Regions from separate parts of the Homo sapiens genome. Here regions 1, 2, 3, 5 and 6 are each linked to region 4. Evidence: fine-mapped expression QTL. A gene starts in region 4. Each other region holds a variant in brackets. All regions are shown on one strand. Distances are from middle to middle.

Region 1 (4,088 bases), 41 kb after region 4:
GGAGATAGCCTATTTTACAAGGTCTGAAATGATGTGTCTTATCCTTCTGGCTTAAACCAAGCTGGGCTTAAAACATCTTTTAAAAAAAATCTGTATTCTATTTTTTTCTCTCTGTTTATCGCTCTCCTTCTGCCTCTGTTAATCTTTGTTTCTGTGTAGTTGCATCCTGTTTCTGTCTGAAAACCCTTGTCTTTCTGAATCCATCTTTCAGTCTCTCACATTCTGTCTTTCCCCTCCTCCTTCACCTTCCCTCCGTCCCTCTCCCTTGCGCACTTGCCGGGTACCAGCTGAGTGCATCCTTTTCCCAAACCTGCTCTGCTTCCAAGGGGCCCTTTTCTGTCTCCTCCACCTGTCCCCATGTTTTGGGGACTGCCTGGAAATCCGGGACACCCTCCTGAGGAGGGAGCTGGTGCCCAACGGCACCTCTTAGGATGAACCCAGCCAGCTGCGTTCCTGGCCTCTGCAGAATGGCATACAGAAGGCATTTTAAGCAAGCGAGCTGAGCTCGCCGCAGGACTCCGACTACCAGGCACCGTGAGTGCAAATGTGTATGTGTGTCTCTGTGTGCATCCTTACATGTGTATGTATTTGCTGCCATGGGGAGGTGGTGCCAGTGTCTGTCAGTGCCTGTTATCTGTGGTGTTGGGGTGTGCAGGTCGGGGGGGCACACACCCTTGTGCATCTGTGTACATGCGTGCACATGTGCCTGGCTCTCTGTGTGTAGGACACACAAATGTACTTAACAGATTTTTCAAGGACACTTTGTGAACACAGCAGGAGGAGACCCTTTAAAGTGGGGACAAAATAATGAAAGATGGATATAGAAATGATGAGATAAGGAATTGCTCTTATCAATAGGCTTGCAACACCACAGTCCGCCTGCATCTGGTCCTAGGAAATGAAGTGAGGGTCACCTTGAAAAGGCATTTTTGTTCAAGCCGCTAAATAAATCCTTTCCCTTCGTTCTAAGGACAAGAACAGCACAAACACACACACCCCTTTCTCTTTGAAACTCAGGGGAATGGAAGGCTCAGGGGGCGCTGTCACTGGGCATTTCAGATAGAGTTTGCAGTGAGAATCTCAGTTGACAGCCAGGGCGGCTCACGCCAAGAGTAGATGTCAGGAAGCTCTGGACAGCCGCTCTCTTCACATCTTGTGGCTGATTAGAAGTTCATTTTGAATTTTTTCCCAGAAGCAGCCTATGCCCCAAGAGGCAACCAGAAGAAAGCAATTTTAGAAAATGCAATTTCATTTGCAGGGCAAGATGTGGGAATCCTGAAAGGTTGGCGCTGAAGATCCTGCAGTTGGTGTGTGCAAGCTGGCAGCCAGGCCGCTGCCGGAGGAAGGGGGTCCTCTGTGCTTTGCATGTCCCTGGGTATTTGGGAAACTTGGCAGCCGGTTGCTCTAAGTGAACCCTGACTCTGGAGTAGGCACTGGGCACCCTGGCGGAGAGGACAGAGCCGGAGACAAGGACTGGCCTCAGGGAGTTTCCAGTTCAAATAGGAACAGACCCGATCACACGCGATACGCTCACCCTCAGACACATTGCTGCTGCCTGCATTTCCTCCGGGCTGCCATCCCCCTTCCCCTACCCTGGCCTCTGTCTGCCACGACTGCCCTTGTCTACCTGCCAAGCTCTAATTATCGTTAAACATCCCGTCACTGCTTCCCGGAAATCTTTAACTTCCACCCAAGAACAGCTAACACTATACGCCCTCCTCTACCTGCAGAAATCACTTGGACCCTCTGACATCACATGTCCAACCGACCTCTTTCTCCACATTTGCCCGTGAGCTGCACTTCATTTTGCAAGGACATAAAGAAGACTATTCACGCAACTACATGCAAAATGACTGGCTGGGATTCCTAAAACGCCAATGTCTTTTAAAAGGCAAAAGGGCTGAGAAATGGTTCCAGGTTAAAAGAGATTAAAGAGCCATGAGCCCAAATGCAATGTTTGATCCTAGGATGAAGCCTGGATCAGGGGAACAGAAAACACTTGTGGGCTGGGCTCAGTGGCTCATACCTGTAATCCCAGTGCTTTGGGAGTCCGAGGGAGGAGGATCACTTGAAGTCAAGAGTTAGAGACTAGCCTCAGGAATATAGGGAGACCCCATCTCTACAAAAAATAAATATAAAAATAAACTAACCAGACATAGTGGTGTGTGCCTGTGATCCCAGCTACTCAGGAGGCTGAGGCAAGAGGATCACCTGAGCCCAAGAGTTCGAGGCTGCAGTGAGCCATGAGCCATGATCATGCCACTGCACTCCAGCCTAGGTGATAGAGCGAGACCCTGTCTC[T/TA]AAAAAAAAAAAAAAAAAAAAAAACAATTAAAGAAGTTTTAGGGATAAGTGGGAATATCTGAATATAGATTGTATGTTAGATAATAGTATTTATAGTATTTTTATGTCATGAATATGCCAATAATAAATAAATTAAAAAAAGATAATAGTATTTTATTAATGGTACCTTCATGAGAGTGACTTTGTATCTCAGATCATTTGTACTGAGGTTATGTAAGAGAACATTCTTGTTCTTAGAAGATACAGGCTGAAGGATTCAAGGATGAAATATCACAATGTCCACAACTAACTCAAATAATTCAGAAGACAGATAATAGAGTGGGCACGAGTGTGGCAAAATGTTAACAGTTTCGAGGATTACAAGCGGCTGTGGAACTATGTTCATAACTTTTATGTGGGTCTGAAGATTTTCCAGTGCCCAGGCTGGGCACTCTGCTTAGCTTTGCGCGTGGATTATCTCATTTCATCCTCAGAGCAGCTTGGGGATGGGAGAGCTCTATCACACCCATTTTCCAGTGGAGAAAACAGAGGCACAGCTAGTTGTAAGCCCAGGCCACATTATGCCCCCACCCCCTGTTTTGTGAAATTTAGTACTAAAGATACTACATGGCTGTGTGATGTCGGGCAAATCACTTAACCTCTCTGTGATCTGTTTCCTTTTTTCTTTTTTTTGCTACGAGTGGATAATTATAATATCAGAAGGTTGTTCTGATGGGTATTATGATATATAAAGAACTTAGAACAGGGTTTGGCCTAAAGTAAGCGCTGAGCAAGTGTCTGCTGTTGCTGCTGCTAATTGTATTTGTTGCTGCAGTCGTGATCCCAGCACCCTCACCTTGGCCAGTGATGGGGAAACCTGAAGGGTGTTTTTTCTTCTGTACCCAGGGCGTGCTTCATGGGTTTGTGATCTATATGGTCACACAGGGTCCCGTGTTCAGAAGATCCCCCCATGTCACTGACTTGCAATTCGTAACCATTTTCTCACAAGGGGCCTCGAATATTTATTTTATGCACTGGGTCCCACACATCATGTAGCCAGCCCTGTCTGCTCTCCCTTTTTATTGGATCCCGTTGAGAGCCTCTCCTAGACTAAACTACTTGTGCCTACGTCATTGCAGCAGACAGGCCCAGGCAGGCCGTGGCATTTCAGCAGGTCAGATTGTATGTTCCTGTGACCACACTCCAATTCTGATGCAATGCGTCAGCCCGCACAGGCCAGTACAGTAGCCGTTCATCACATCTGGTCATTGAGCATCTGAGACGTGGCTATTCTAAACTGTGATGTGCTGTGAGTGTGAAATTCACACCAGATTTTGAAGACTTAGCACACATCCGAAAAAGAAATGCAAAATATCTTATTAATAACTATATTGATGGCCGGGCACGGTAGCTCGCGTCTGTAATCCCAGCACTTTGGGAGGCCAAGGCGGGTGGATCACTTGAGGTCAGGAGTTTGAGACCAGCCTGACCAACATGGTGAAACTTTGTCTCTACTAAAAATACAAAAATTAGCCAGGAGTGATGGCACACACCTGTCATCCCAGCTACTCGGGAGGCTGAGGCAGGAGAATCGCTTGAACCTGGGAGGCGAAGGTTGCAGTGAGCCGAGATTGTGCCACTGCACTTCAGCCTGGGCAACAAGAGCAAAACTCCATCTCAAAAGTAATAATAATAACTATATTGATTATGTATCAAAATTATTACATTTTAGATACAATGGGTTAAATAAGATACATGAAAAAAATTGGTTTCAGCTGTTTTTGCTTTTTTCATATGGCTACCAGAAA
Region 2 (4,088 bases), 25 kb after region 4:
TGAGCAATTGCAGTCAGTGCCTGGGTTCAGATCCAAGCCTTTGGAATCATGTATGAATTTGAAACTCCCTTTCCTCCTGTGCAAGTTAAAGGTTTTTTGTTGTTTGTTTTTTGTTTTTTGGTTTTTTTTTTGGAGATGGGGTCTTGCTCTGTCACCCAGGCTGGAGTACAGTGGTGTGATTGCAGCTCACTGCAACCTCCACCTCCCAGGTTCAAGAGATTCTCCTGCCTCAGCCTCCTGAGTAGCTGGGATTACAGGTACAAGCGACCACGCCCAGCTAATTTTTTGTAGTTTTAGTAGAGAAGGGGTTTCACCATGTTGGCCAGGCTGGTCGCAAACTCCTGACCTCAAGTGATCCACCTGCGTCAGCCTCCCAAAGTGCTGGGATCACAGGCGTGAGCCACCGCACCTGACCCTGTGCAAGCTTTAAATTGCAGGAGGTGATCCTTTGTACATTGGAGGTGGTAGTAGTAATAGCTGACATGATCAGTAAAAATATTCATTGAGATCATACATTCACTTTCTGGAGCTGCCGCAAAAAAATTGTCACAAACTGAGTGACTCAAAACAATGGAAGTTTATTCTCTTACAGTTCTAGAGGCCAGAAGTCCAAAATCCAGAGATCAGTAGGACTGTACTCTCTCTGATGGCTCTAGGGTTCCAACTTTGCCTGCTGCCGGAGGAGTGGTTGAGAATAACTGAGTACATGGCCCTCCTTCAGCAATTGCTCTGTTCTGTTGTGTGGAGAGATCACATTTTGTTTATCTGCTCATATGCTCATGGACCCTTGGGTTTGTTTCCCCCTTCTGGCTCTTTTTTTTTTTTCTTTGAGACGGAGTTCCACTTTTGTCCCCCAGGCTAGAGTGCAATGGCACGATCTCAGCTCACCACAACCTCCGCCTCCTGGGTTCAAGTGATTCTCCTGCCTCAGCCTCCCAAGTAGCTGGGATTACAGGCACCTGCCGCCACACCCAGCTAATTCTTGTATGTTTAGTAGAGATGGGGTTTCACCATGTTGTCCAGGCTGGTCTCGAACTCCTGACCTCAGGTGATCCACCTGCCTCAGCCTCCTGAAGTGTTGGGATTACAGGCGTGAGCCACTGCGCCCGGCCTTCTGGCTTTTATGAATAGTGCTGCAATTGGCAGGGCACGGTGGCTTATGCCTGTAATCCCAGCACTTTGGGAGGCCAAGGTGGGCAGATCACGTGAGGTCAGGAGTTCAAGACCAGCCTGGCTACCATGATGAAACCCATCTCTACAAAAAAAATACAAAAATTAACCAGGCTTGGTGGCACACACCTGTAATCCCAGCTACTCGAGAGGCTGAGGCACAAGAATCACTTGAACCAAGGAGGTGGAGGTTGAAGTGAGCCAAGATTGCGCCACTGCACTCCAGCCTGGGCAATAGGGAGAAACTCTGTCTCAAAAAGAAAAAACAAACAAACAAAAAATAAGTAGTGCTGCAACGAACAGCAGCAGATAAGTATCTGTTTCAGTCCTTGCTCTCAGTCTTTGGGGTATGTACCTAGGGGTGGAATTGCTGGGTCATATGGTGATTCTGTGTCTAACTTTTTGAGGAACCGCCTGTTTTCCACTCTGTGCCACATAGTTTTGGTTGAAGTAGTTACAGAACCGCCCCAGATCAAATGTGGGAAGAGATAGATGCCACCTCCCAGTGAGGGACTACTAGGTCACAGAGGGAAGAGATTGGGGAGGGGAGATGCTGTTGCGGCCATCTTTGGAATGTACAAATGGCCACTTGAGTAGTGATTACTTCATTTATTTATTTTTGCAGGGAATTATTTTTTTTAAAGGGCCTCGGATCACCTAAGGTCAGGAGTTCAAGACCAGCCTGGGCAACATGGTGAAACCCTATCTCTACAAAAATTAGCCAGGCATGATAGCAGGTAC[G/C]TGCAATTCCAGCTACTTAGGAGGTTGAGTCAGGAGAATCACTTGAACCTGGGAATCAGAGGTTGCAGTGAGCCGAGGTCGTGCCATTGCAATCCAGCCTGGGTGACTGACTGAGACTCCGTCTCAAAAACAATAATAAAATAAAATAAAACAGGACCTCACTCTGTCACCCAGGCTGGAGTGCAGTGGTGTGATCTCGGCTCACTGCAACCTTGGCCTCCTGGGCTTAAACGATCCTCCAACCCCATCCTCCTGAGTAGCTGGGACTACAGGTGTGCACCACCACACCTGGCTGATATTTTTTGGTAATTTTTGTAGAGGCAGGGTTTTGCCATGTTGCCCAGGCTGGTGCAGTGAATATTTCCTCTTCTCTTCTCTTCTCTCTCTTTCTCTTTCCCTCTTTCTTTCTTTTGAGACAGAACCCAGGCTGGAGTGCAGTGGCACGATCACGGCTGACTGCAACCTCGACCTCTTGGGCTCAGGTGATTCTCCCACCTCAGCCTTCCAAGTAGCTGTGACTATAGGCGTGTGCCACCTGGCTAATTTTTGTATTTTTTTTTGTAATTTTTGTAGAGACTGAGTTATACGATGTTGCCCAGGCTGGTCTTAAACTCCTAGGCTCAAGTGATCCACCCACCTCTGCCTCCCAAAGTGCTGGGATTACAGGTGTGAGCCACCATGCCCAGCCTGCAGTGAGTAGTTCTTGATGCTTGTCCTGAACGCACACTGTGCTGGGTGTAGGATACAGACATGAGTATTGCAGGTGTGGTTTTTGCCCTCTCACAGCTTGTGGTTACTTGGAGAAGAGCCATTAACTAAAATTGCAAAATTAATTTTGGGGAAAGGGGGCTGGACTTTCCTGATATTCTCTTCCTCCTTTTATCTGTAAGTTGATGAATAACTTAACATAGCAAAGTGCACTAAACTTACATACGCGGCTCCATGAATTTTTACCTGAGAATGCAACCATGTAACCAGCACCTAGATCAAGATCTAGACCGTCCCCAGCCCCCAGAAAGTTCCCTCATACCCCAGTGGGTAACTGCTATTTAACATCTTCACCATAGATTAGCTGAGCCTATTTTAGAACTTTATAAACGGAATCATACCGTAGATACTCCTTGATGTCAGGCGTCTCCCTCTGCACTGTTTGTGAAATCCCACAATTAATCCCTTTTTTAAAGAGACATTGACTTGCTGTCACCCAGGCTGGAGTGCTGTGGCTTGATCATAGCTCCCCTGCAGCCTTGAACTCCTGGGATCAAGCAGTCTTCCCACTCAGCTTCCCAAGTTGTTGGGACTACAGGTGTGCACCACTACACCTGGCGCATTTTAAAACATTTTTTTTTTAAATTTAGAGACAGAGTCTCACTATGTTGCTCAGGCTGGTCTTGAGCTCCCTGGCTCAAGCAGTCATCCTGCCTCAGCCTCCCAAAGTGCTGGCATTACAGGCATGAGCCGCCATGCTGGCCTTAATTCTTTTTTTTTTTTTTTTTGCTTTGTTTTGTTTTTTCTCTTTGAGATGGAGTGTCACTCTGTCTGTCACTCAGGCTGCAGTGCAGTGCTGCAATCTTGGCTCACTGTAACCTCTGCTACCCGGATTCAAGCAATTATCTTGCCTCAGCCTCCCAAGTAGCTGGGACTACAGGCACACACCACCACACCTGGCTAATTTTTGTATTTTTAGTAGAGACGGGGTTTCACCCTGTTGGCCAGGCTGCTCTCAAACTCCTGAACTAAAGTGATCTACCTGGGCCTCCCAAAGTGCTTGGATTGTAGGCGTGAGCCACAATACCAGTCTTGACCTTAATTCTTTAACAACAGCAGTATGGACTGTGAAGGAAACATGTTCTGTGCCACAGGAGCATATAGTAGTGAGCTGTAATCAAATCTGCAGTGAATAACGTGGTAGTGAGCTGTAATCAAATCTGGAGTGAATAACGTGAACACTGGGAAGAGAAGCACTCACCCTTACTAAGCATGCACTATTGGCCAGGCCCTGCCCTTAGAAGGAGAGGGTGAGACCTGCCTGGCCAGAGGCCACAAGCTCTGGAACAGTCCCCGATGGGTTGGACCCCACCTCTGCTCTTCACTATCCGATGTGACTGAGCAGGTGACTTCACTTTGCTGTGCCTCAGTTTTTCCTTTTGTATAATTAAAATACTGATGGTTACTGC
Region 3 (4,088 bases), 99 kb after region 4:
ATTGCACTCCAGCCTGGGCAACAAGAGTAAAACTCCATCTCAAAAAAAAAAAAAAGAAAACCAAGAAAAGTATCTCAGAGCTTCCTTGGGGTGACTGGTGGAGACCAAGGTCAAAATCATATCACCCAAACAGAGGCTTTTTCTTAATTGTACATAATAAAGAAAGCTTTCACTTGTTAGTCTATCTAGGTGTACGGTTTAGGGTTTTTCTTTCTTTTTTTTTTTTTTTTGAGACAGAGTTTCACTCTCTTGCCCAGGCTGGGGTGCAGTGGCACGATATCTCGGCTCATTGCAACTTCTACCTCCTGGGTTCAAGCGATTCTCGTGCCTCAGCCACTGGAGTAGCTGGGAGTACAGGCGTGAGCCACCATGCCCAACTAATTTTTGTATTTTTAGTAGAGATGGGGTTTCACCATGGTAGCCAGGCTGGTCTGGAACTCCTGACCTCAGGTGATCTGCTCGCCTTAGCCTCCCAAAGTGCTAGGATTACAGGTGTGAGCCACCATGCCCAGCCTCTTTCTTTTTAACAAAGACAGGATCTTGCTGTGTTGCACAGGCTGGAGTGCAGTGGTGTGGTCATAGCTCACTGCGATCTCACAGTCCTGGTTCAAGGGGTCCTCCCACCTCAGCCTCTCAAGTAGCTGAGACTACAGGCACGCAGCCACCATGCCCAGCTAATTTCTAAATGTTTTGCAGACATGAACCGCGCTATGTTGCACAGGCTGGTCTCAAACTCCTGGCCTCAAGGTATCCTCCTGCCTCAGCCACCCAAAGTGCTGGGATTGCAGGTGTGAGCCACCACACCTGGCCCTTAGAACAGTTTTTTAACCGAGGATATATCTCCGATTCTGCCCCAAAAGGATTCTCACACCAATCATAGCAATAATACTGTAAGAATAGGAACAATAATAATCAATAATAATATAGTCGTGCTAATCGTAATAGTAGCAGCCACCACTTTATGTGTGCCAGACTCTGCTGTATTTTCTCTCTGTCTCTGTGTGTGTGTGTGTGTGTGTGTGTGTGTGTGTGTGTGTGTGTGTGTGTGTGAATGCTCTCACCTTTATTTCTCTCAATATACCCGTGATGTAGCTATTTCCCACATAACAAGGTTAAGTGACAGGTGCATGTTCCATGTAAAACAGAGGCAGAACCACAGCTAAAACATCTGGCCCAGCAATCAACTCATAGTGCTATATTTTCTCATTCAGTCCTCTCCACGACCCTGGAAGGTGGATTCTGTCAGTGTGCCCATACAACACATCAGGAAAGTGAGGCTTCTGAAGCTAAATTACTTGCCCCAATTTATTAGTTTGTATCCACCCAGGTGCTAGCACCGATTTCAAGTAGGATACATTCCCATCCACACACATAGCTTCTAACAGAGGCTTCACTGGTCTTAGGAAATGCACACAAACACATTTCCAATAAAATTGCATGGGGCTCATCGAACCCCAGATTCCCACCCACGGATACTGGTCACAAGCCTCTGCCATCGGTGGTCACTTTCCCCTTTGGGATCCAGGTGGAGGATCTGATTGTGAAATATCGGAAAAAGAAGAAGACGGTGGCCGGGATCATCGTGGAGCCCATCCAGTCCGAGGGTGGAGACAACCACGCATCCGATGACTTCTTTCGGAAGCTGAGAGACATCGCCAGGAAGGTCAGTGGACAGGGCCGAGGTTGGATGGAGCCATTGGGTTTTCTGGGTTGAGTTCCCCGAGTAACGGGCCAGCAGCACCTCTGCCTTGGAGCTTCTGTCAATCTCCAGACTTGCAGAGGCTGTCTGTCAGCATCAGGGGTGGAGAAGTTGGGGTTGGTGAAAGAATGGGGATTCTTCCCTAAAACTATACACACACACACACACACACACACACACACACACACACACACATATATATATATTTTTTTTTTTGAGACAGAGTCTCACTCTGTTACCCAGGCTGGAGTGCAGTGGTGCAATCTCAGCTCACTGCAACCCCTACCTCCCAGGTTCAAGTGATTCTCCTACCTCAGCCTCCCGAGTAGCTGGGACTACAGGCACACGTCACCATACCCAACTAATTTTTGTATTTCTAACAGAGACGAGATTTCGCCATGTTGGCCAGGCTGGTCTTGAACTCCTGACCTCAGGTGATCTGCACACCTCAGCCTCCCAAAGTGCTGGGATTACAGGCCTGAGCCACCACACTTGGCCTTAAAATCTTTTTAAAAAACCTTTTTGGATACATAATAGTTGCAGTGCGTAATGATCAAATCTGGGTAATTGGATATCCATCACCTAAAATATTTATCATCTCTTTGTATTGGGAATATTCCAAATCCACTCCTATTTTGAACTATGCAATAAATTATTAACTAAAATCACCCTATTGTGCTACTGGACACTAGATCTTATTCTTCTATCTAACTGTACTTTTGTATCCATTAACCAACCCCTATTTATCTCCACCTCCCCATTAGCCTTGCCAGCCTCTGATAGGCGTCATTCGACTCTATTTCTTCATAAGGGAA[G/A]TGTTTTTAGTTCCCACCTGAGTGAGAACATGCAATATTTGTGTATGTGTGGCTTATGTCACTTAACATAATGTCCTGTAGTTCCATCCACGTCATTGCTAATGACATAATTTCATTCTTTTTATGGCTGAATAGTATTTCTTTGTGTATATGTACCATATTTTCTTTTTCTTTTTTTTTGAGACAGTCTCACTCTGTTGCCCAGGCTGGAGTGCAGTGGCACGATCTTGGCTCACTGTAACCTCTGCCTCCTGGGTCCAAGTGATTCTCCTGCCTCAGTCTCCCAAGTAGCTGAGATTACAGGTGCACGACACCATGCCCAGCTAATTTTTGTATTTTCAGTAGAGACGGGGTTTCGCCATGTTGGCCAGGCTGATTGGCTCAGACTCCTGGCCTTGGGTGATTTGCCCGCCTCAGCCTCCCAAAGTGCTGGAATTACAGGTGAGAGCCACCGCGCCTTGCCGAGTGTGTATATGTACCATATTTACTTTATCCATTCATCCATCGATGGACAGATTGATTCTGTATCTCGGCTATTGTGAACAGTGCTGCAATAAACATGGGAGTGCAGGTATCTCTTTGACACACTGATTTGCTTTCTTTATATTGTGTGTTTGTTTTAATGTCTTGTGCATATATAACTGGCAATCAAACCGATAAGTTCACAGATAAAAGTTATAAGACGTGAGTTGACTTAACACAGATGCTGAGTTAGAAATAGCCTTGGTGACAAGCAGAACATGGCAGCTGAAGTTTGAGAAGCACATTCGAGGCCTCACTGTTGGACACAGCTCCCTCTGACGAGGTCGAGACCCGAGACTGAAGCCAGATGACATACCGCTCTGTGTTGGTGCAGGGAGTATTTAATGTTCTGGGTTTTTTTGGTCCAGCTTAGCAGTTTTAGGAAACACTCAGATTCAGCTCTGGTTGGAACTGCTCAGCTTAAGTGTTTTGATTAGTTTTTTTTGTGCACAGCTCAAGAACATGGGGCTGGTTTGCTCTTCAGAAAACAAGCACGATGTGTGTGGACCCAGGGTTTGGCAGTTAGCTGGCTATGGAGGGCATGAATTTCTGGCCTCCCACGGGTGTTTATTTCTCCCTCCTCTCTCTTCTCCGGCCAGCATGGCTGCGCCTTCTTGGTGGACGAGGTCCAGACCGGAGGAGGCTGCACGGGCAAGTTCTGGGCCCATGAGCACTGGGGCCTGGATGACCCAGCAGACGTGATGACCTTCAGCAAGAAGATGATGACTGGGGGCTTCTTCCACAAGGAGGAGTTCAGGCCTAATGCTGTGAGTTGGAGCCAACCTTCTCTCTACATCCAGGGCAGAGAAGGGAGCATCCTCTTCTCCTAACTGTTCCTTTCTCACCATCGAGGAGCTGGGTGGGCACTTACTGGGTCGCAGGTTTTCTAAGTCCCAGTTCTTATCAATGCAATTAGCAGTGGTGTGCCCTCCCAGCTCTCTCTGTAAGGCCAACTCTGGAACAGTCCACCATCAGCCTTTTCCTGTTTTCTCTCTGTGTGCACACACAATAATATCATCGACAGCTGCCGCAGCAGACTGAGCATTTGCTAT
Region 4 (4,088 bases):
TTAACAAAAAGTAAGACAGTACCAAATATACTGTTTTTGCAAATAACTTAACATTTTGAGATTTGTTTTGTTTTGTTTTTGAGACAGGGTCTCACTCTGTCACCCAGCTGGAGTACAGTGGTGTAATCTTGGCCCACAGCAGCCTCAACCTCCCAGGCTCAAGGCTGCCTCAGTCTCCTGAGTAGCTGGGACTACATGCATGCGCCACATCGCCCGGATAATTTTTGTATTTTTTGTAGAGACAGGGTTTCACTATGTTACCCAGGCTGGTCTTGAACTCCTTGGCTCAAGCGATCCTCTTGCCTTGGCTTCCCAAAGTGCTGGAATTACAGGCGTGTCACCACACCCAGCCCCATTCAATATTTCATACCTATGTTTATTGTTCAATTTCATGCAACAATTTCCCTCTGAGTCCCTGCTGTTGTGCATTCAAGTTGTTCCCAGTTTTTCCCTGTGATAAACAAAATGGTAGTAAGCTACTTTATCATTAAATCTTTGTACCTTTAAATGTTTTCAGATAAGTTCATAGGGATTGGATTGCTAGATCAAAGGGTCAACTTACTTTTAAGATTTTTAAAATAGAAATACCCAATTTCCCTCCAGAAAGGCTGTGATCTTTCTACTGCCATCATCAATACATGAAACTCCTTGAAGTCTTTGCAAAGAATAGTAATTATAATAATAAAAACAAGGTCATTTTGGTAGGTAAACTCTTTCCCTCTTTTGGTTTTAACTTGCCTTTCCTTTTCAAAGTGTCATCTCCCATGTTTATTGGCCGTTGTATTTCTTTGGGCAGGTCAAGGGTAGTAAAGGGGATTATGTTCATGGCTTTGGTTTTAAGAAAAAATTGCTAGATTTTCAGCACAGGCCTCATCAAGTTCCTCAAGCAAGGTGACAATCACCCAGGCTAGAGTGCAGTGGTGCCATCTCACCTCAGTGCAACCACTGCCTCTCCATTCAAGCGATTCTCATGTCTCAGCCTCCCAGGTAGCTGGGATTACAGGCAGGTGCCACCATGCCAGGCTAATTTTTGTATTTTTAATAGAAAGGGGGTTTCCCCATGATGGCCAGGCTGGTCTCGAGCTCTGGGCATCAAGTGATCTGCCTGCCTCGGCCTCCCAAAGTGCTGGAATTACAGGCGTAAGCCACTGTGCCAGGCCTCAATTATTCTTATTTACTGCTCTGTGTGTGTGTGTGTGTGTGTGTGTGTGTGTGTGTGTGTGTGTTGGGGGGGAGGGTCCCCAGAGGTGACACTAGGAGGTGAATGATTTGTTTGGCAGCTTTCTATTTATCTATGTGTTTACTTTATCTTAATTCTTTAATTGCAAGGACTATAGCGCTTGTGTAATCAGAGATAGGGCAGCCTGGATTCCTGGACAGCAGGAGGAGAGACCTCAGGGTTCTACAAGACTCCACAGACCAAGTTATCAGTGATCAGGGTGAGTGGGGAGAACCAAGCTGAACTCTTTCTCTGCCTTTAAGGTCTGTACTCTCCATCCATCCATTCATTCATTATGAGGACTTGGTGATCGCCTGTTGTCTTGATGAGCAGTTCTTTGTGTCTTTGATTTTGTCACTGAAAGATTGCATCCTCTTTCCAAATACCTCTAGAAAGCTGTGGGGGGGCTATCCATCCGTCACACCTGAGTATTAATTATCTTCCACACAGCATTTTATACAACGGTAGAAAGGCACCTTCATCATATCTAGGGTCTCGTTTATACCCACGAAGGAGGTACAATCTCTGTTGTCCCAATTTCAGGAAATTGAGGATCAGGAGGCGCAGTGACCTGCTCCAGGTCATGCAGAAGGAACCACCTCTGACTCCCAGCGCCCTGTTTGTCTTCCGGAGCGCTGGGGCCAGGCGGAGGAAAGTAGCTGGGAGCAAGAAGGGCTGGCAGGGCCCTGAGCGCCGAGATGGGGAGTGAGGTGGGGAGGGCGGGATGCTCCTTCCCTTCTCCGCAAAGGAACCCCTTCTGATTCCGACTCTGGAGCTCCAGAGACCGGATCCGAGACGCGGGTGGAGGTGGAGTTACACTCGCCTGCAGCCCTGAGGGTGTAAATGGCCCATTAAGATCCAGGTTAAATCAACCTATGGAGCTGCCCCCCAGAGGGTCAGGGTCCCCACAACTTGACGGGGGTCCTCAGCCGTCTCCTCCCCAGTCCCAGGACTCCCTCCCAGCCCTCGCGGTCCCTCTGGTGGGTCCCGCCCCAGCCCCCGTCTCCCCCGCCCCCGGAGGCTGGACTCTGCCCCCGCCCCGCCTGCCACCTCCCTCCTGGGGGCGGTGGCCCGTGGCGGGCGCACCCATTGGCTGTGGCGAAAGCGAGGGCCGGGGCTGGCGGCGCTGATTGGCCGGGACGCTCGGCGGAGCCAGGGAGTCCGGCGAGTCGCTGGGGGAAGTCGAGCAGACACCCAGCGCTGCCGGAACTCGGGGCGCGCATCCCGCAAGTCGGAACCCGGCGGATCGGATCCCGCAGATCGGAGACGGGGCCTGGAGGTGAGCGCGAGGCGCCGGGTGGCTTGGGACGGGCCCTTCCGAGGGGAGCCGAGAGGAGGTCCTTCTGCCCTGCCCCCAGGAGCAAAACCTGGGCATCTTCTCCTGGAAACGGAGCCCTCATCTTCCCAAGACGCGGGGCCCTCCCCCGAAAAGACAGGGGCTCCCACCCCCCAGAGAGCAAAATACCTTCCTTTCTCCTTCAGAAATGGGCCCTTCCTCCTGGCTCCAGCTCTAGACAGAAGTCCTCTCCCTTTTACCGCTTGAAATAGAATGCGGCCCCAAAAAGTGGTCTCCAGGTCTCTAGAGCCCCCTCACCTCTTGGGAGACTGATGCCCCTTCCCCATCCTTAGAAAACTAAGTTTGGGTGTCTTCCTTCTCCCCTCTCTTTCGGAATAATGGGGGTCTTCTCAGCTTATAAATTACAGTGACCTCCCCCTCCATGACAAATGGAAGCTCTCCCCCCATCATAAGACAAGGAAATCCCGGAGCAGAGACTCTGCAAGTCACCCTCCCACCCCAGATACTGGGCTCTGGAGAGATAGATGATTCACCCTTAGCCCTGCCGGAGACCCCTCCCTACCCGTCAGAGAGGCAGGGTGGCCTCTGACACCACCACATTAAAGGCTTTTGGGGATTTCCCCTCTCCTCCCCAGTAAAGATGTAAAATGAGGGACCTTCATACTCAGGAGCAGGGCAAAGGTCTGGCCACCCCTCCAAGTCATCCACCTCCCTCCACTCCACCCAAGCCCTTTCACACAAACCCCATCCTAGTAACCCCCTGCACCATCCTCCCACCGCTCCCAATCCCATCCTTCTCCACCTCACCCCAACTCCACTCCCACACCTGGCTGCCCCACCTATTTCACATCCTCTCACCTTTCCTCACCCACCCTGGCCAAGGTAAGACTAGAGGGGGTTCAGCGAGATTTAGTAAGACTGGAGCTCTTAAAACTGGGATCTGGGGCCTAGAGGCCCTTCCAGGAGTCTTCAAACTCTGACAACAGAGATGGCCTCTGAGGCAGCAGGACCAGCAGAGACCACCCGCCACCTCTCCCCCGCTCCCTGCCCCAACACACGCACAAAGGCTGTGTTCAATGCATTCTCTCTTGCAGTCTGGGAGGACAGCTGGCCCTCTTCCAAGAGGGCCCGCATTTCCCCCCTAAAGTGTGCACCCCCGCAAGCGCCTGTGGACATTGCCTGGTGGAATTCCCTGGGCACTCAGCCAAGAGAAATGGGTGCTGCTGGGCCCATCCACTGGGGAGGAGACAGTGTTGGCTTTGCTGCTTTGATGAAGCTAGACTAAGGGACAGGATGTTGGTGACCTGGGGGTGGGGAGGGGGTGGGAAGAGCTCTTCTCTGGTGGGTCAGGTTGGGAGGCAGGAGAGAGGGAGGCAGTGAGTTGTGTCTTGCTCTTTGGAGCCTGTGTTGCGGCGTGGAGTCATAGAGAAATGTGTTTTCTCGAGGCCCAAAGAGGTTAGCCACGGGGAGAGGTAAATGGTCCAGTCTGGAGTCCTAAGACCTAAAAGGGCTTCTGCATTAAAGACGTGGCCCCTTCATTTGACAGTTAAACACACAGAGGCACAAAAGGGG
Region 5 (4,077 bases), 56 kb after region 4:
TATAAGGTCAATTTTCAACTGCAGGCCACCAAAATGTCACCACGGTATATTTTCCAATGTGACATTTTGTAATTGAAAACGTGTGGGATTGGCTCTCACTTTTGCAGAATATTCAAATGTTGAGTTCTCTGAGACATTCGGAGTTTCAAAAACGTGTTTAATGGAAATTGAATTGTGTGACGCCTCAGTGCTCCCTGTTTCAGACAAGTGGTTTTAAGGGAAAGACATGAACTGCACTTTCTACACAGTTACTCTGTTGCTAAATTAATAGGCTTGCATTGAGTCGGATATCCTGGAATAGAAAAAAAAAATCCATTGAGTTATTAAGAAAAGAGTTTGGGCCATGCACAGTGGCTCACACCTGTAATTCCAGCACTTTGGGAGGCAGAGGCGGGTGGATCACAAGGTCAGGAGATTGAGAACCTTCTGGCCAACATGGTAAAACCTCATTTCTACTAAAAATACACAAATTAGCCAGGTGTGGTGGCACATGCCTATAATCCCAGCTACTCGGGAGGCTGAGGCAGGAGAATCGCTTGAACCAGGGAGTCAGAGGTTGCAGTGAGCCGAGATCACGCCACTGTACTCCAGCCTGGCAACAGAACAAGACTCCATCTCAAAAACAAAGAGTTTGGTTTCTCAGTTAATTCATGGCCACACTTTCCAAGCCCACACTTTCTCAGAAAGTTTCCTCTGGTGAAAAGCAATAAAATTTATTCTGTGAACTACGTCATTTTTATTCATGAAGCCTCATATCAACAATAGCTAGGGGCCGGGCACGGTGGCTCACGCCTGTAATCTCAGCACGTTGGGAGGCCAAGGCAGGCAGATTACTTGAGCTCAGGAGTTCAAGACCATCCTTCACAACGTGAGAAAAACCTGGCTCTACTGAAAAAAAAAAAAATTAGCTGGGCGTGGCGGCGTTCGCCTGTAGTTCCAGGTACTTGGGAGGTGGCAGGATGGCCTGACCCTGGGGGAGGCAGAGGTTGCAGTAAGCTAAGATTACACCACTGCTCTCCAGCCTGAGTGACAGAGCCAGACCCTGTCTCAACAAAAACAAAAACAGCTAGGAGTTTTGTTATTAGCTGGATTAACTGATGTTACAATGCATAGAGGCAGGGGCTTTGGGGTCAGACAGTCTCAGGTAAGCCTATGACTGAGGCCGAATGTCATAACCTCTCTGAGCCTCCCTTTTATCATCTCTGAACAGGGAGATTACCCTACTCCTATAGATGTTTGAGCAAAGAGAAGGGAGTAATGTACCCTTCAGAATGTCTCACAAAGACCAGGCACCATGCCTCATGCCTATAATCCCAGCACTTCAGGAGCCAAGATGGGAGGATCATTTGAGCACAGGAGTTTGAGACCAGCCTGGGCAACACAGCGAGACCCCTGTCTCTAAAAAATATATATATTTAAAAATTAGCTGGGTATGGTGGTGCATGCCTGTAGTCCCAGCTACTTGGCAGGGCTAAGGTGGGAGGATCTCTTGAGCCCAGGAGTTCAAGGCTGCAGTGAGCAATGATCACGCCACTGCTCTCTAGTCTTTCTTTTGTCTAGCCCTTTTTTGTCTTAAAAAAAAAAAAAAAAAAGACCCTGTTTGAATGCTGGATCATCTCAGTGGGTAGAGAGTGTCAGGACTCTGGCCCAGCCCTGTCTAGTCAACCATGGCCAGTAGGGCCAGGTCTATGCCCC[C/T]GCAGAGGAATGGGGAAGTATCTGAGAAGGGGGAGGAAGGAAGTGCAGAGCAGACACCCCAGAAGATACTTCCTGCACCAACCCCACCCCACCCGTGATAGTACCTCAGTTGCCTGAAGACAGGATAATGACCTGTCTCTGTCTTCTAGGAGCTGCCTCCTAGGGCTCTGGGGATGAAACGAGATGGTTCTACAGCACCAGCTGAGAGCCTGCACATAGCAAGTGCCCAGTACTTGATGATGCTTAGAGGGTAAGGACGGCCTCTAATTGATCTTTATGTGCCCTAGTGCCCAGTGAAGGGTCTGGCACACGGTAGGTGTACCATGAATGTTCGTAGCACAAATGCATCAATGGCAACCGCCTCCCTCCTTCATTCACTCTTTCCTTCTAATAATACAGCCAACATTCTATTAGCTCTGTGGGCAGCCACAGCGTGCTGGAACTCGCCATCCTGGGCTCGGTGCCTGATTCTCCACACTATTCCTGCCCTGTGCTGCTGAGCCCACGTGTTTCCCAGCACCTGAACCTGTACTCTGAACCCGCCTGTCATTCCTCCTTGCCCTGTTCTCTCTCCTTGGATACAGGCCTCCCCTCCAGCTGTGGGATCTCTCTAGGTCTGTATTTATCACCTCTGGTTGGCACTTCCTATATGCTGTCATCACAGAAGCAGGGGGTGGGAGAAGCCTCTTGGTCTTCATCCAGGTCTAGGATGGAATTTCTGTCCACTGTGGGGCTGGGTAGAGTTAGGCAGCCCAAGCCAGGGCTGCATGAGGAAAGGGCTGCGTCCCCAGGGTCTGTCACAGAGTAAGTTTCAGGTGTTGCAACTCGCAATAAATCCATGCATTAGGCACAAGCCAGGACTCCTGAGCCAGATATCTCTCAACCCCAACGCTGGCTCCACCAGCAACTTGCTGTGTCCTGGGTAAACCACATGGCTTCTTTTAAAAAAAATAGTTTTACTTTGTTTACTGTCCAAAGTACTCATTAATTGTTTATTTATCAAGAGAAACTATTTCTAATTTTTTGTGTGTGAGACGGTGTCTCACTCTATCACCCAGACTGGAGTGCGGTGGTGTGATCTTGGCTCACTGCCATCTCCGCCTCCCAGGTTCAAGCGATTCTTGTGCCTCAGACTCCTGAGTAGCTGGGATTACAGGCGTGCACCACCACACCCAGCTAATTTTTGTATTTTTAGTAGAGACAGGGTTTTACTGTGTTGGCCATGCTGATCTCGAACTCCTGACCTCAAGTGATCCACCTGCCTTGGCCTCCCAAAATTCCGGGATTACAGGAGTGAGCCACCCTGCCAGCCCAAAGAGAAACTATTTCTTAGCCCCCATATTCATGTTTCATAGTTCAGGAACACAGGTCAGTGATAAACTTCTAGGTAACTCAACCCAAAGAAATTCTTTATATTCCAAAATCACTTTGCACTCTGAACAATAACAGCCATCCTCATCGCTTCTACATATGCCTTGTTTCTTGGTTCAGCCACAGCAAACTTATAGAGAGCTGCAACTCTCAGGGATACAATGACTGCTCCAACAATGTGAAATGGCAGACTCTGGACCAGAAGGCCACACACCTGAGTTTTGTCAAAGCACTGGAAGCCGTGGTAGTTGTCTAGTTGTCCTTGATAGGTATGTCAACCTCAACACCAATGTCTTTCCTGGATCACTTTTCTTTTTTTTTTTTTAATTGTTATTTTAAAAATCACACAGATAACATAAAATTTACCATCTTCACCATTTTCAAGTATACAGTACGGTATTATAAGCACTTTTGTTGTATAGTGAAGCTCCAGAACTACTTCATCCTGCAAACTGAAACTCCAAACACACTAAACAATGTCCTTTTTTCCCTTCCCCCAGCCCTCGGCAACCTCTTTTTCCTCTTTTTCTGTTTCTCTTTTTTTCCTCCTTGAAACAGAGTCTCGCCCTGTCGCCCAGGCTGGAGTGCAGTGGTGCGATCTCAGCTCACTGTAACCTCTGCCTCCCGAGTTGAAGTGATTCTCCTGCCTCAGCCTCCCAAGTAGCTGGGATTACAGGAGCTCACAACCACGCCCGGGTAATTTTTTATGTTTGGTAGAGACGGGGTTTCACTATGTTGGCCAGGCTGGTCTTGAACACCTGACCTCAAGTGATCCACCCATCTCGGCCTCCCAAAGTGCTGGGATTAGAGGCATGAGTCACCATGCCCAGACCCTCTATCTGTTTCTAGGAGGTTGACTACTTTAGGTTTTTTTTGTTTTTTTTTTTTGTTTGTTTGTTTTTTTAATTTATTTATTTTTTATTGATAATTCTTGGGTGTTTCTCACAGAGGGGGATTTGGCAGGGTCATAGGACAATAGTGGAGGGAAGGTCGGCAGATAAACAAGTGAAC
Region 6 (4,088 bases), 43 kb before region 4:
GGATGTAAATGAAAATGAATGGGGCGTGGACCAGTCAGATGGACTGGGAGCTGGGAGCTAGAAGCCAGGTAAGAAAGGGGAGTGATGAAGTGGCGGGAAAAGTGGGACAGGAGAGAGGTTTGGACAGATACTCAGAGGTGGGATCAAAGAGGAACTGCTACCCAGGTATGGGGGCAGAGCAGAGGGGTTTGCTGACTCTAGGATTTGAAATCTAGGGACCTGGCACTCTAGAAACACCGGGAGCAGTAGGGAGCTGGGCCAGGAAGTGATCGGTCCTGGTTAAGCACCTATCGTGTTTTGGATATCTTCACTAGTATCGAGTGGCCTAGTCTGCACAACCCCTCCTGAGGGGGTGCATGGATGAGGAAGTGAAAGGCCTAGCGCCATGCTGCTTGGTGGTGGTGAGCGAGCTTCGAATCCACACAGTGTCCACACCAGGGCTTTGCCTCCCCCTGGCGCTGCTCATTTGGGGAGCGGAGCTGTGATTTGAGGCCGTTCATTGAGATCCAGGGTCCCCGATGGTGTCTTGAGTTCCCAGGGAAAGGCCTCCCCCAGCACTGGCCTTTGGTCAGAGAATGGGGGTCAGTGGGTCACTCTCAAAAACAGACAAAACAGCAGCTCTGTATCTATCTGCTCAGCAAACAGTTACTAAGCGCCTCCACGGTGGTACCAAGCAGCCTCTGTTCTAGACTGTCCCAGAGAGGGCAACGTGGAACTCATACCAGAACCCAGTTCCATGTATCCCATGGGTGACCTCTGCCCTCATGGCCTCTGCAGATAGGGATGAGTATTCCCATTTCACAGAGGAAGAGACTGAGGCTCAGCGAGGTTGAGGAACTTGCTGGGGTCACACAGCTAGTCAGTGGCAGAGCTGAGACTTGTACCTAGGTCTGTCTGACGCCACAGCCTGTGCTGTCATTCCACATCATGGGGGCAGAGCTTTCGAAAGAGGCTTGGAAAGTCCTGCTTCTCAGGGGGGCCGACGATGGCTCATTTCCCTCTGAGCCCTCACTGTTATTAGCCTCCCCAAGCTGGGGAGCAAACCTGTCAGTTACTCCACAGTGAATTGTTGTGTCTGTAGTGAATGTTCTGGGAATTTACCATTGTATGAGCTAAGAACAAAGTCCCTCGGGAAGAGGCTGGCCTGTGACCAGCTTCCCCTCCTGCCCTGTTCCGGTGACCTCACGGTGAGGCCCCCTTGTCTGTATACCTGGAAGTTCACTTTTTCAGCTGTCAGTCACTCACTACCTGCCCTGACGGAGGAGAGTGGAATGGTAGCTAATGCATGAACCTAGGTAGTAATTCGTGATTATTTCAAACTGGCTAGAGCACTTTCATCTGCAAAACTTGATCTAATCCTGCAGGGCTGGATTTTGAGCCCAGCTCCATCTTCACAAGCCAGGTGACCAGAGACAAATGTCTTACCCACTCAGAACCACATGGTCAGAACCACGTGATCAGGGGAACCACTGTCCCTGGGTTTTAGTGATAATTTATTGAAACATGCCCAGTGAGCGCCAGGAGCAGGGCCTGGCGCAGAGTTGATGGTAAGCAGACGTCATTCGCCTCACAACCCTTTTCCTCTGACCCGTAAATCAACCCATTTTTTTCAAGTTATAGACCCATTTGAGAAACTGGTTTTTCTAAAGAAAAAGAAAAATAGGTGTTTTCTTAACTATTCCAAGGGATTGACAAAACCTTAAAAAGTTTATCCAGGGATCTGCCAGGAATCCACAGACCCAGGATTCAAAAGAAATTATGTTCAATTCCCCCACTGTAGAAATAAAGTGAGACCCCAAGAGAACTCGAGAAAGGCAGGGCTGGAACTCAGGCCGTCAGATTCTGAGTCCCGTGCCTTCCTGCTGGAGAATCGGGCAAGTCGCTTAGCCTCTCTGAGTTCAGTTTCCTTGTCTGTACAAGGGGTACAACCTCCTCCAGTTGTAAGGAATTCAGAGAGACAGCACATACAAAGCTCTTAGCGTAATGCCTGGCACGGATTCAGTGTTCCGTAAATGTAAGCCTCTGTCCTGGGGACTGGCCCAAGCTGGGAGGAGGGAGACTGGCTGACGAACAGTCTAGGTTCCTGCAGGTCTAGAGACCCAGTTTGCAAATGAGATAAGACGTAATTCTAGAATCTGATAAGGACAGGTGAGATTCTAACACTGTCTCATCCCATTGCTAGCCCTAGAGTTTCTCATGGGGATAGTTCCTCAGGCTGGTCTTTTATGTTCTCATGATACCTTTGGGATTATTTAAATATAAACTCTGACTTTTCACAGGAGTGGGAGCCCCAAGATGGCCCTGGGTAGGGAGGTCCCTAAGTCACCTGGGCCTCCACCCCTAGACTGAATCCTTCTTCCTCACCCCTATGCAGCCACCTGGACCGCGCCC[G/A]GCCCAGGGCTGACATACTGGGCATTTGTTGTGATCTCTGACTATCCTGATGAGTCATGAAGAAGCATATTTACCCATTCGAACACTAGCAAGTGCCTGAAACGGGGCAGGGGTCGGGTAGACCTCGGAATCTCTGCACTCCGGAGTCGAGGATGTCAGACACAAGAAAGGAGAGTGCCCTTAAGGTCGGCCACACTCAGCTTCCTGGGGAATTCATTCTGGCTTTTTCCATCTGGCCCCAGGGAGTTGCACAGCATCCGCTTCTTCCTTTGATCCATCCCTGAGCCTCTTGTTCTCTCCCTTATCAATTCGCCCTGGTGTTTTCTCGTGTTATCAGCATCAGCAGAAAGCACATCTTAGATCAGTTCTTGGTCAGACTCCCAAATGACTTCATTTTAAATCCTCTTTTGTTTCTATTTGGCTTTAGAAAAATATGGGTCTCACTTTGCACTTCGTTACCCAGGCTGGTCTCAAACTCCTGGCTTCAGGCGATCCTCCTGCTTTAGCCTTCCAAAGTGCTGGGATTATAGGTGTGAGCCACTACCCGGCCATCTCGACACATTTTGATCTAATTAGATGTTTTTTTCTCAGACTATGACCCTGGGCTGGTCATGTCCCCCTTCTGGGCTTCAGTGATCTCCACCTGTGCAAGGGCTGGGGTCCTTGACCACCTCAATGGTTCTCAGATGTCTGCCGAGCCTGTGCTCTCTCAGAAGCGCTGTCTGGTTAAACACTGTTACAGCCTTAGAAATGAGGGATGAGGCTACTTCTGCATTTTGCAAAAGAGGAAACTGTAGCTCTGTCTCCAAGAAGTTAAGTGACTTGTCACCCAGCTAGGAAATGACAAAACTGGGTTGTCATACAGGTCTCTGACCTCAGAGTCCTCATTCTCCCTCAAGGGAAGCTAGCCACCCATTGAGGACAGCTGGGAGGCAGAACTTACGTCCACGAGACCCCTGGAAGGAAGTGACCAATCACATAGGACCAAGATCACTATGAGAAGGTTCCCCTGGCAGCAGGAACCCTTAGGACAGCTGGGGTTAGGGAGCAGATGGCAAGGAGGAAGCTTTCCCAGGCCAATGGAGGGAGAGGAGAGGAGAGGAGGCTACGAGCCACACCCAGGAGATGGCATGGGTGGGACTGGGGAAGAGGAACTGGGCAGGGACGCTGACACAGAGGGCCTGGGGTCTGTAGACCACAGACACCCCTTCCCCTCCACGCACAAGCACACAAGCCTTCAGCCTGCCCAGCGAGTCCCTGTCCCTTTCATCCTGGGAGGCTCTGCCCCAGGCTTTTTAAACCGTGTCCCTGGCATGGTTCAGATTCTACATCTCCCTTCCCCAAGCAGGCTGAAGAGCTAGAAAAGGCCGGGCACGGTGGCTCACACCTATGATCCCACTTTGGGAGGCCAAAGCAGTGTATCACTTGAGCCCAAGGGTTTGAAACCAGCCCTGGCAACATGCTGAGACCCTATCTCTACAAAAACTACAAAACTAAAAAAATTTAGCCTGGCATGGAGGCATGCACCTGTAGCCCCAGCTACTCGAGAGGCTTAGGTGGCAGGGTCACTTGAGCCTGGGAGGTGGAGGCTGCAGTGAGCCTTGGCCGTGCCACCACACTCCAGCGTAGATGACAGAGTGAGACCCTGTCTCAAAACAGAAAGAGACAGAAAACTGCAGATGACCTGACTTGGAACC

What was found. PIP is the estimated chance that this variant, and not a neighbour inherited with it, causes the effect.
Region 1: its variant is fine-mapped to the expression of ABAT in whole blood (INTERVAL, PIP above 0.99).
Region 2: its variant is fine-mapped to the expression of ABAT in whole blood (TOPMed, PIP 0.93).
Region 3: its variant is fine-mapped to the expression of ABAT in whole blood (TOPMed, PIP above 0.99).
Region 5: its variant is fine-mapped to the expression of ABAT in whole blood (TOPMed, PIP above 0.99).
Region 6: its variant is fine-mapped to the expression of ABAT in whole blood (TOPMed, PIP above 0.99).

The regions. Positions count from the first base shown.
Region 1 is chr16:8,713,332-8,717,419 of GRCh38, forward strand. The region is part of intron 1 of ABAT (4-aminobutyrate aminotransferase); the gene reads left to right. Among named protein-coding and RNA genes, the nearest start is that of ABAT, 41 kb to the left of the region's middle. The variant T/TA (reference allele first, on the strand shown) is at 2,302.
Region 2 is chr16:8,697,522-8,701,609 of GRCh38, forward strand. All of the region lies in intron 1 of ABAT (4-aminobutyrate aminotransferase), which reads left to right. Among named protein-coding and RNA genes, the nearest start is that of ABAT, 25 kb to the left of the region's middle. The variant G/C (reference allele first, on the strand shown) is at 1,912.
Region 3 is chr16:8,771,255-8,775,342 of GRCh38, forward strand. ABAT (4-aminobutyrate aminotransferase) reads left to right here. Exons shown (of 16, transcript NM_020686.6): 12 at 1,526-1,663; 13 at 3,636-3,803. Among named protein-coding and RNA genes, the nearest start is that of TMEM186, 24 kb to the right of the region's middle. The variant G/A (reference allele first, on the strand shown) is at 2,515.
Region 4 is chr16:8,672,214-8,676,301 of GRCh38, forward strand. ABAT (4-aminobutyrate aminotransferase) reads left to right here and starts at 2,404. Exons shown (of 16, transcript NM_020686.6): 1 at 2,404-2,498. RefSeq lists enhancers at 1,401-1,902, 1,903-2,402 and a silencer at 1,997-2,456.
Region 5 is chr16:8,728,255-8,732,331 of GRCh38, forward strand. The region is part of intron 1 of ABAT (4-aminobutyrate aminotransferase); the gene reads left to right. Among named protein-coding and RNA genes, the nearest start is that of ABAT, 56 kb to the left of the region's middle. RefSeq lists an enhancer at 3,800-4,077. The variant C/T (reference allele first, on the strand shown) is at 1,696.
Region 6 is chr16:8,629,563-8,633,650 of GRCh38, forward strand. The region is part of intron 3 of METTL22 (methyltransferase 22, Kin17 lysine); the gene reads left to right. Among named protein-coding and RNA genes, the nearest start is that of METTL22, 9.9 kb to the left of the region's middle. The variant G/A (reference allele first, on the strand shown) is at 2,392.